Linked DNA regions of Homo sapiens: region 2 is linked to region 1. Evidence: fine-mapped expression QTL. A gene starts in region 1. The other region holds a variant in brackets. All regions are shown on one strand. Distances are from middle to middle. Region 1 holds the start of PCYT1B (phosphate cytidylyltransferase 1B, choline). Region 2 has its middle 21 kb from the start of POLA1.

Region 1 (5,381 bases):
CAGATACTTGGGAGGCTCAGGTGGGAGGATCGCTTGAGCCTGGGAGACAGAGGTTGCAGTGAGCTGAGATTGCACCACTGCATTCCAGCCTGGCAACAGAGTAAGATCCTGTCTGAAAAAAAAAAAAAAAAAAAAAGCTACATAATAATTCCATTACCCCAATAAACTCTCTCCTGCTATCCCTTCATAGTCATCCCCTTCATAACCCTTATGGAATATTTAGCTCTGTAGTGTGGAATTAACTGATCATTCTTAGCTAATTGTCTTGATAGCATTACAATGCCCCCAAGTTAAAATAACTCACTCAAGTATTATCAAGAAGTTTCTGAGTCAGGTTGTAGCAGCTGCCAGGACTGGTCTCCAAAGTGGGTGGATCTGTTAAGGACTCCTCTCAGAGTGGTGCCTGAAAGAGCCTATTTCTGCCATTAAGACTGCAAGACATGCTGAGATTCAATCACAGGACTGTGGGGAGAGGAGCAGGAAGAAGCCAGGACTAGGCTGGAGCAGAATTAGTGGGAATGGAATTAGTTATAGAGCTGACCCTCAGGGCAGTTAGACAGAAGTCTAAATTTCAAAGTTCAAGGACTTGGGATGAGTAAGTGTCAGGTGTGACGGACTTAGCACAAAGTAGCACTGAAAGCTAAGGATTTGATGTGGGTAATACAATGAAGATATCCTAGGCAAAGGCAGTATCTTGGTTCAATGGGACAGGGGAGGATTAGGAGGAGAAGAAGGTGAGGAAGGGAGACAGAAGATATTGGGAGTCTAAAGGAATGGCCTAGGCTCTTGGACAAGAGTTCACAAGGACTCAGCTAGACATCAGAACTCTTTAAAATGAGCAGGTGAACAGGTGAACCTCTCATTCTGGAGAGAGAATTAGGTGACCAATTAGGAACCAAGGGGTGGCTCAGTGGCCAAGAATACAGTGGGGTTTAGGTGCTTTCCAATGTGAACAGTGACTCTAAGGTAGTGGTTTGTAAACTTTAGCGTGGGTCAGAATGCCTCCCAAACCAGGAGGTTTTGATTCAGTAGGTCTGGAGTGGGAAGCCAGAATTTCTGATTCAGTAGGTCTGGGGTGGGGATCCAGAATTTCTGACAAGTGACCAGGGCTGCTGCTGCACTTCTTGGAGAAGTACACTTTGAGAACCACTGCTCTAAGGCAAAAATACATATATTGAGATTAGAATAACCATGTCATTTGCACGTCACCCAGTACACGTAGGAAAAGGGCTCCTAAATGTAACACAGGGCTTGGCTCTTCCAGGTGATGAGCTGGTAGAGTTAAACCTGCTGCTGGAAGTGTTTTGTGCTTCCAGGAGGGCAAATAGGGTAGGAAGCATCACTGGAATTCTCACAACACTGGAGTTCTGTCCTGTATAGGTCATAATACTCTTAAGTGATGTTATTCTGACTTAAAGGGCCAGCATCTAAAACTGTCAAACTGTAATTCTCTGCTACAGAATCCATTTTCTTCTTCTTTTAGGACTAGCCCTCTTTGCTTATTGAGGAGTAATAAAAATAATGTCCCCTTATATTAGCATAGCACGTTCTAATTCAAAAAGTGCAATGACATGATATCTCATTTGATCTCCTTTCTGTGATGGAGGCAAGCCCGGTATTTTTATCCCATCCTTTGGGCTACTGATTCTCAAAGTATAGTTCCCAGACCTGCAGCATTAACAACACCCAGAAACTCTCTAGAAAAGCAAATTCTGACCCCACCCCAGACTTACTGAATCAGGTCCGGGGTCTGGCAGGGGGCCAATAATTCGCATTTCTAACAAGTTCCCTGGTGATGCTGATGTTGGTGCTGCTGGTCCCAGACCACACTTGAATGAAAACCACTACTGTAGATAAAAATGAAAGATGTAGAAGCCCAGGGACTTGTCCTAAGAGGACTCCTGCCTAGATCCTTTTCTTACTACACCTGCTGCATCCCTGGTCCCTACGCGCCCGCCCCCACCACCTCGCCCTTCGCAAAAAAAAAAAAAAAAAAAAAAAAAATTCCTTCAAATCCCAGCTGCATTATTTTAGAATTTTGTGAATGTGAATACCTGTAAAATGAGGATAACAATAGGATCTACCTCTTTGGGTTCTCACAAAGATTAAACAAGAACTAGGTAAAGTACTTAGCACCGTGCTTGTGCTTAATAAATGCCAGGGATCATCATGATTTTTTATTAATATTAAAAGTGACAATTCACAATGAATACCTTGGTAAGTTCTTTGGATGTGTGTCTTCAGAATGCTCCTCTTAAAATGTGAATGTCCCTAGATAATGTAGACATTAAAGCACCTGATCGTTAACATTCCATCTCTGATTGCCATGAGCATTTGGCTGAGAGCAGGGTACTTCGGAAATGGGACCCACGACTGGTAAAGTAGGAACCAAGAGAAAATAGAGCAGTGCATGGAACAGTGTATTGAAAGGCACACAACAGCAAGACTTCTTGAGGAAACTTTGAATAGCTGGGGAAGGGGAAGAGTGGCTGACAGAGGAAGCAACTGCGAAAGGGCAGCCAGGAGTAGGAGGCAGGCTGTTAAAGACAATCTACCTCCTTCAAAGTTCCCCCTAGGGCAGCCCCAGGGGAGGGCTCCAGGGCTACACCAGGCCACGAGGGGATCTGCCAGGGTTCACGTTGCATGAAGTCCAGGGGTCGAACACTCAGGTGCCCATAGTGAATGCCCGGAGGGGCCCTCCACTGGCAATTAGCACAATGAATTTGGGCTCAAAAGTGGCTTTGTCTTCAGGGTGACTCCTATTTGGCAAATATCCTGACTACAGCACATCATGCACTAGCTCATCCCAGGGACATGGTCCTTTATTAGTGGAGGTCTGCTATGTTGTTTCTCAAGGCGTCCTAGGCCCCTCAGGAAGCGGTTTTATGTTATCTGGGTGGCGCAGCCCGGGTCCCGTGCCCAGAGAGGACGGAGACCTTTGCAACTGAATTAAACAGAAGAAACAAAAGCAGCAAGTTCGGGCCCGTGGGTACGGAGGGCTAGCCAATGGGGCCCGGCCGCTTCCCGGCGGAGTGGTACTATGATGACAGTAGCCAACCAGCGCGCTCTATGCAAATGAGATACTGTATCCCGCACCAGCCGCTTCAGTGTCGTCTGGTTGTTATAGTGATAAACTGAGGCCTTGCCTCTTGGCTTCTGGGAGAGAGAGAGAGAGAGAGGGGCGGGGGGTAACCTCTTTACTTCCCCTAGGGAAGACAGAAAGAAGGGGAGAAGAAGCGGGGGGATGGGTGGAGGGTAGAGGGGAGAAAAATACGTGACAAAGAAAACATTCTCTGCCTGGGAGGAGACTCTCTGAGGGTGTAGAGCTAGAGGGAGCATTCACTGGCCATGCCAGTAGTTACCACTGATGCTGAGTCAGAAACAGGTATCCCAAAATCCCTTTCCAATGAGCCTCCCTCAGAAACCATGGAGGAAATAGAGCACACATGCCCACAGCCTCGACTGGTAAGTAAAGACAAAGGATGGAAATGTATGCGTGGCTATGGCATAAAAGAGTTCCTTATGCGCCCGCAGCCAGCGAGGAAAACGATGCTTAGAGGATTTTCATGTAAATGAGAAGAGCGCTACCGCCTAATCCTTCTCAGCTGTTTATACTTAGCTTCTATACCGGGCGCTGCTCTCAGTTTACAAAGCGTTATTGTATTGGCTGGGTAGGAAACGGGCTGCTTGGGATATGCTGTGTTTTTGTGCTTCGGGAGGAGGGGAGGGCCTTTTTCCTTTTAGGTGTGTTCTTGTCTGAAGGTAAAAAAATCCTACAGTGCAATTTTAAAATGGTATTCTCTTTACCAAGCTCGGGAAGAGTCCCTTGTTAAGTTTTAAATTCTAGCTAAGGAATGCTTCGTTCCTCAACTGATTTTGGTGCCTAATGCCAATTTGGGGGGAAAAAAATGGAAACATGGAAGCAAAACTTCCCCATCCGTTTGAAAATGTTCAAAATAAATAAATAAATAAATACATAGGAGTCCCTCAATGATTTAGTTAGAAATAATACGCATTTAAAACGAATTGTAAAACATTTCCAGAGTGTGCTGTGAGGGTTTCTCTTCAGGTAGTGGAAACCTGGGGAGCTACATTTATTTAGAAAGGGGTTGCATGCCTTTAAGAATGAAAGTGTGGAAACGGGGTACTGAGAGCGTCCTTCCGCCTCCGTAACTGCACCGTAACTGCTCTCCCAAATTTGGTCGTCTCTCTATCCCTGGTCATGATCTTTTAGGTAGATGTGAAACTTCGTTCCCAACCACCTCAGCATGTGTCCTCAAGGAATCAAAAACACGCATGGGTGGTGGGTTTTCTGTGGTCCGAAGTCTTGTGGAACTTGGGGAGACCTCTCTTTGAGTCCCCCAATCCAAAAGACACACTAGTTAAAGCTATCCTTTCCTTTAGCGATTTCCCTCAAGTTAAAAGGTGGAATATTTTGATTGGCTGTGGAGTTTGACCCTGGGAAGAGTTTTTTAAAAAAGGATTTTGTGATGTAGCATTTTCTGTGAACCTGCAAAATTAGGGCTCGCAGATGAGAAGGCCAACCCATCATAAAACTGTTATTTCTTAATAAGAGTTAATAAGGGTTCAAAGGAGGCTTAGAACAACTTCCTAAAAAGCACAAATACAGAGGAAGTTATATTAGAGCCCTGTGGGCTTTTTTCCCCTATGCTTCTATTTTTAAAAATGTTTTCTCTTAGGGCAGTTTAATAGTAACTGTGCCCTAGCACTTTAGCCACTTACTGAATGACATACACAGTGCAGTGTCTATGTTCTCATGAGATACAAACCATCCCAATAAGTTTGTTACTAAGGGATTCCTTTGAGTCACTAAACAACTTATGGTTTAGCATAAAGGAAAATGACCACTAAAAGCATATTACAAGATTATCATATGCACATATACATATATACACATAAATAGAGAGAGAGACTCACTCTGTTTTCCAGGCTGGCCTCAAACTTGAACTCCTGGACTCAAGTGATCCTCCTGCCTCAGCCTCCCAAGTAGCTGGGATTACAGGCTTGTGCCACAGCACTGGACCAATATATATATGTGTGTATATATATATATGTATATACACACATATATACATATATACACACATATGTATATATATTTGTGCCCATGCTTACCCAAAAATATATTTTTTAAAGTAACCACAATCTTCAAATTTGCATCACATACCTTCCTGACAGAGGTAAAGGGCAGAGGAGAGAAAGGCGGCATCCAGCTCCAGTTTGTGCATCATTTCAGTCTCTTTTGCCTACTATTTTTCCTTCCATTTTTACCTCTTAGCTATTCTGCTTCTTGATTGCTTCTGCCTGAGGGAGATGGGCAGAGAAAATTAAGGGAAAGAAGAAAGTTCAAGTTACTTTCT
Region 2 (5,381 bases), 25 kb before region 1:
GTATTGGTGACTCTGTCCTCATTATCTTTGTTTTATAGTCATAATTAATCAAAACCTACCCTCTCACCTTTCTTGTGCTCATGACAAAGAATTACCTGCTCTAAGCAGGAATTAACTGAGGGAGTAGATTGGTAGTGATTCTTCTTTGGGATGTGAAACAAGAAGCTTGGAAATATAATCAAATGCACTGTTATTCTAAGGTATGACAGCAAGAAGCAATTTCAAAATATGCCTCTCTTGTAAACCATTGGGCCTTAATGACACAAGAGTGATTTTTCCATTACTGACAAGAGCAAACAAGTGCAAATAGAGGTGGGTGATTTTTCCTGACAGCTGAACCAGGCTTCAGTTAGTTTCAGAGAAACTTTCTATTTGAGTTGACCTGTTCGTGCTCCATCAAGTTGGGACATCATTTTAATGGATCCAGTGAATAAATCTGGAGGAAATAATGTGCCCAGGACTTGGGTATGGTTTTTTTGTTTTTTTTTTTCTGTTTTAATTCACTACTTGGAACCTACCTCTACAGTGTGGCTTACCTTTGATGGCCAATCCCAGTCTCTTTTGGGGAATCATCTATGCAAGATAAGAATAAGGATGAGGGCTGGGAGCGGTGGCTCATGCCTGTAATCCCAGCACTTTGGGAGGCCAAGGAGGGTGGATCATCTGAGTTTGGGAGTTTGAGACCATCCTGACCAACATGGTGAAACCCTGTCTCTACTAAAAACACAAAATTAGCCAGGTGTGGTGGCGCATGCCTGTAATCTCAGCTACTAGGGAGGCTGAGGCAGGAGAATCACTTGAACCTGGGAGGCAGAGGTTGTGGTGAGCCGAGATCGCACCATTGCACTCCAGCCTGGGCAACGAGATCGAAACTCTGCCTCAAAAAAAAAAAAAAAAAAAAAAAAAAAAAAGAATGAGGATGAGGATGAGGACAGCCAGGCTCGGTGGCTCACGCCTGTAATCCCAGCACTTTGGGAGGTGAGGCAGGTGGATAACCTGAGGTCAGTAGTTCTAGACCAGCCTGGCCAACATGGTGAAGCTCCATCTCTACTAAAAATACAAAAATTAGCTGGGCATTGTGGTGCACGCCTGTAATCCCAGCTACTCAGGAGGCTGAGGCAGGAAAATCACTTGAACTTGGGAGGTGGAGGTTGCAGTGAGCCAGATCATGACATTGCACTCCAGCCTGGGTGACAGAGTGAAACTTCATCTCCAAACAAACAAACAAACAGAATGAGGATGAGGGGAAGCCACAAGAGGGAAGAAGAAAGAAGAGCTAACTGTTTGGATCTGAAGAAAGGCTTTGCAGGGTGAGGGCTATCAGCAACTGTAGGGAGAGATCTGATACAAATATAACATCTATTTCCTTGGGGTCCTCAGATACTTTTCGATCCAACTTCCATGGAGTTTTCTCCCTGCGGCCCTCTAACCTCTCTCCATGCTGAGGATGCTCTCCTAACAGTGCTTGTGTTGTTTGGAAACAGTAAGTGTTATTAATCTGAATTCAGTCACAGAAGCAGAACCACGATGAGCTGTGGAGGAAGCGATTTATCATAGGAATTAGTCCTGGCCCCATTGTGAGAGGGATGGGGGATTGAAGGTCCAGGAGGAAATTGGAAGATGGGAGGAGCCACCCACCATCAGTCTGAGAAGCCCAGCACATCCAACTGTGCAAGTGGAAGGGGAAGCCGGTTGGGGAGACCTATGGGAAGCTGTTCCTACCTCTATGGGCCTGCAGCCAAGTGTCCAGTGGTGGCCCTGGGGCTCCTGTTGGTCAACAGGATCAGCACTCACAAAGAAGATCTGGACACAGAGTGAGGGAGAGTGAGGACAAGCGGGATCCGATTTCACGTCTACCTCTGTTTGTTACCATACCTAACCACAACAACCGTTGCAAAATAACCGCTCCTACTTCACTTCCACCTCCCATATCTTATGCAAATTCTTCTTTTGGTCAACTCTAACCCAAAGCCTTCAGGGAAGGGAATCCTGGGAAATGTGATTCCAACTTAGCAAGTCAGAACACTACACACTACCACACTAGGAAACAGTGTGGCCACCGGCAGAGCTCCCCCAGCAGTTGGCAGGGTACCCAGATGCAGAAGGTATAGGATGAATGAATGGTGGGGAGGGGTGAGGGAGTCTGAAAAGCATCCTTCAACCAATCAGAGCACGTTTTACTGTCCTGGAGCTTAAAATAGAGGAGAAAGCATTCTAAGAGTTTTCCTGCTAGGATGGGACAAAGGATATCTTTACTTGGCAAAGGTGAGTTTAGGTGGACCAGCTGCCTTCCCTCTAAACTGAGGTAACAGTCTGCAGCCAAGGTTTCCATAGCCCTTTGGTGCAGCCAGATTTAAAAAGAATGTTGTTCTTAGAAAGCCTGAAGCACATGCATATTTAAAGAGTTCTTTTAACACAGAGTTATCTGAGAGAAAATTACCTTAACACAAATTCCGAAGACTCCACATAGTTAAGATGCACAAATTCATTATCAATGGTGCTGAGAATAGCTCCTTGGAAGGGATAAAATGTTTATTAGAATCAATTAAAGTATGTTTGAGAGATTTATTTTTTCCATCTTTATTCTCCTATTTAAAGAAAGTGCTGAGTTGTATATTAACACTTCAAGGTCTCGGTCACTGTTTGTCTTGAAAAAAAGAGAGAAAATGTTTGTCATTCCAGGAGCATAATCAGTTGAGCCAGTGCACAATGACATAGTTAATTCACCAAC[G/A]GAATTTGTTGCCATAGCTTCAGCGAGGGACGGGGTAGATTAAACAATAGCCTTTTTCACGACTGCAGCTTTCACCACAACCCGCCTGTCCCCGCACAACAGGCCATCATAGCGCTAGTTCAGAGCACAGCAATTGTCAATGAACAACAGCCCAGAGGGGACAAGAGGAGGCTTGTGGTAAGTAAAGCAAGAGTGCCTAGCAACTCAAATCTCTCCTTATTCAACAACTGGGACACTCCGAGCTCCTCCGAGCTTATCTTTGAGCGCTGGGCACAGAGAGCCTGCTTGACCTTTGGTCAAGTGAGCAACAAAAATTTCATCCTGTGACTCAAAAGAACTCCAAAGGGTAGAGGCCTCTAGAGAAGATAAAAAGATCAGGAGCAGGCATGGTAGGCCATCAGGAGTGCATCATGGAAGAGGACAATCGCGCTCCCCAATTGTGGCGCAAGGTAATGTGAATACTTTCTTATTGATTTTTGCCTTATTGAATATCAAAGTCAGTTCAAAAAGTAAAGTCCTATGTATCTGCAAGTGTAATGAATCTGTGCTAATTAATAGTCACACTAAAAATGGAAACATTATCTTCTCCGTCTTAAGTTGATTTAAAAAAAGACAAAGAAAAACAAATTGTGACTAATATTTCTTTATCCCCTTGCAGAGTATGTCAGCTCCCTGGATAGACTTAGATGACAAGAACAAATTTGCTTACTAAAAAAAAGGTCAGATCAATATGCTATGGGAGCCTGAGGGTATTGCAGAAATGTTTTAACAAAATGTTCTTTATCCTATGAAATGAGAAATTCTCCTAGTAGAAACGTCACAAAATCCTGATTAGAATACCCATTCCTTTTATTCTGAGATGGAGTTACGCTCTTGCTGCCCAGGCTGGAGTGCAATGGCACGATCTCGGCTCACTGCAACCTCTGCCTCCCGGGTTCAAGCGATTCTCCTGCCTCAGCCTCCCAAGTAGCTGGGACTACAGGCGTGCACCACCATGCCCAGCTAATTTCTGTGCTTTTAATAGAGACAAGGTTTCACCATGTTGGCCAGGCTGGTCTCGAAATCCTGACCTCAAGTGAAGACAATCCATTTCTGAATTCAATGTTATGCAACTGTCACTTAAGTGAGACCACTGTATATGGTCTTTTCTCTTGGGCAGAGGGTGCCCGGAGAATGTATTTCAAGGGGAACCTTGTTAAACTGAATGAGTTCTAGATGGAGAAAGTTTAGGCAGTGGGACAAAGTGTTAAGAAGGACCCCAGATGATGTGAAGAAGAGATTGAGGGCCAGAGGCAGCTTCCCAACAACGAGGCAGAGGGAATTTCTCTGCTTAACGGTGAAGCTGGTTTCACTCCACTACCCTGAGAATGGACACAGGCCCTGGTCTTTCCTGTACCAGCATCCCTTCAAAACCTTCTCATGCCCCTTGGAATGGATATGGGTGGCTGGTTTAAGCACCATATTACTCAGAAAGTAGTCTAGGTTCATATCCAGCAGACACTTGAGCTACATGACTGATTGATCATTTCGCCCAGTTGGTCCCTTCCCCAGTCACCTCCATGTTATCTTAAATTTGGAGAAATTTGTACTGTATATTGAAGACTCATGAGTTTTACTAGCCAATTGTATTGAGTTAATGGGGGAATCAGGAGGCATTGATTGATTGATTGATTGATTCATTCATTCATTCATTCATTCATGCCTCATTTCAAAATTAGATTTGAAGTAGTATCAAAATAACTAGATGTAGGCCAGCCACAGTGGCTCACACCTGTAATCTCAGCACTTTGGGAGACCTAGGCAGGCGAATCACTTGAGGTAAGGAGTTCTAAACCAGACTGGCCAACATGGTGAAACCCCCTCGCGACTAAAAATACAAAAAAATTAGCCAGGCATGGTGGTGGGCACCTGTAATCCCAGCTACTTGGGAGGCTGAGGCAGGAGAATTGCTTGAACCCAGGAGGTGGAGGTTACAGTGAGCCAAGATCATGCCACTGCACTCCAGACTGGGTAACAGAGTGAGACTCTGTTGCCAAAAAAAACAACTAGATTCAGTTCTGGACTGGTGCAGATATGGAAAGTTGAGATGATTCTTCTATGTTCCAGTCATGTAGAATTAAATCTGTGCAAATATCACTCCGTATTCTGATACCTTTTGCAAATTGAAAATAGACAAAGGCCTCTAATTTCATGGTCTCCCAAATGTATCACTTATCATTATTATAATAGTTGACATTATAGGGTGACATGTCCCGGGCTAAGTACTTTCCATGGCTTATTTTATGTAATTGTATTCAACAAAAGGACTCAAGCTCCTGACCATTTGCCTATGCTGCTAATTTGTGCCTTGATTTCTCTATTAAATTGAATAGGCTTATTTAACCTCCTTGAGCAATTAAAATGGATTACATTATTAATGGTAACAATAATAAAGAATGATTTTATTAACATTTTTCTCATGCTTTTCGGTTCTCAGTGTACTTTTCTCACACAGGCAGGCTCAACTTCTGTAAATTAAACTTTCTGACTACCAGCCCTTTGTGTACCATAGATTGATACCCCCACCCAAGCTGACACACGACCATTTCTGGTTACTGCTGGTGGAGTTACTTAACAGCCAATAGTTACAAGCATTGCTGCTAAATATTGA

The links.
Region 2: its variant is fine-mapped to the expression of PCYT1B in whole blood (TOPMed, PIP 0.99).

The regions. Positions count from the first base shown.
Region 1 is chrX:24,645,073-24,650,453 of GRCh38, reverse strand. It overlaps PCYT1B (phosphate cytidylyltransferase 1B, choline), which reads left to right and starts at 3,107. Exons shown (of 8, transcript NM_004845.5): 1 at 3,107-3,465. The coding sequence starts at 3,349. PCYT1B-AS1 (PCYT1B antisense RNA 1) reads right to left here and starts at 381. Exons shown (of 2, transcript NR_046638.1): 1 at 305-381. RefSeq lists an enhancer at 2,862-2,911.
Region 2 is chrX:24,670,369-24,675,749 of GRCh38, reverse strand. It overlaps a transcript of PCYT1B not described here. Among named protein-coding and RNA genes, the nearest start is that of POLA1, 21 kb to the left of the region's middle. The variant G/A (reference allele first, on the strand shown) is at 2,732.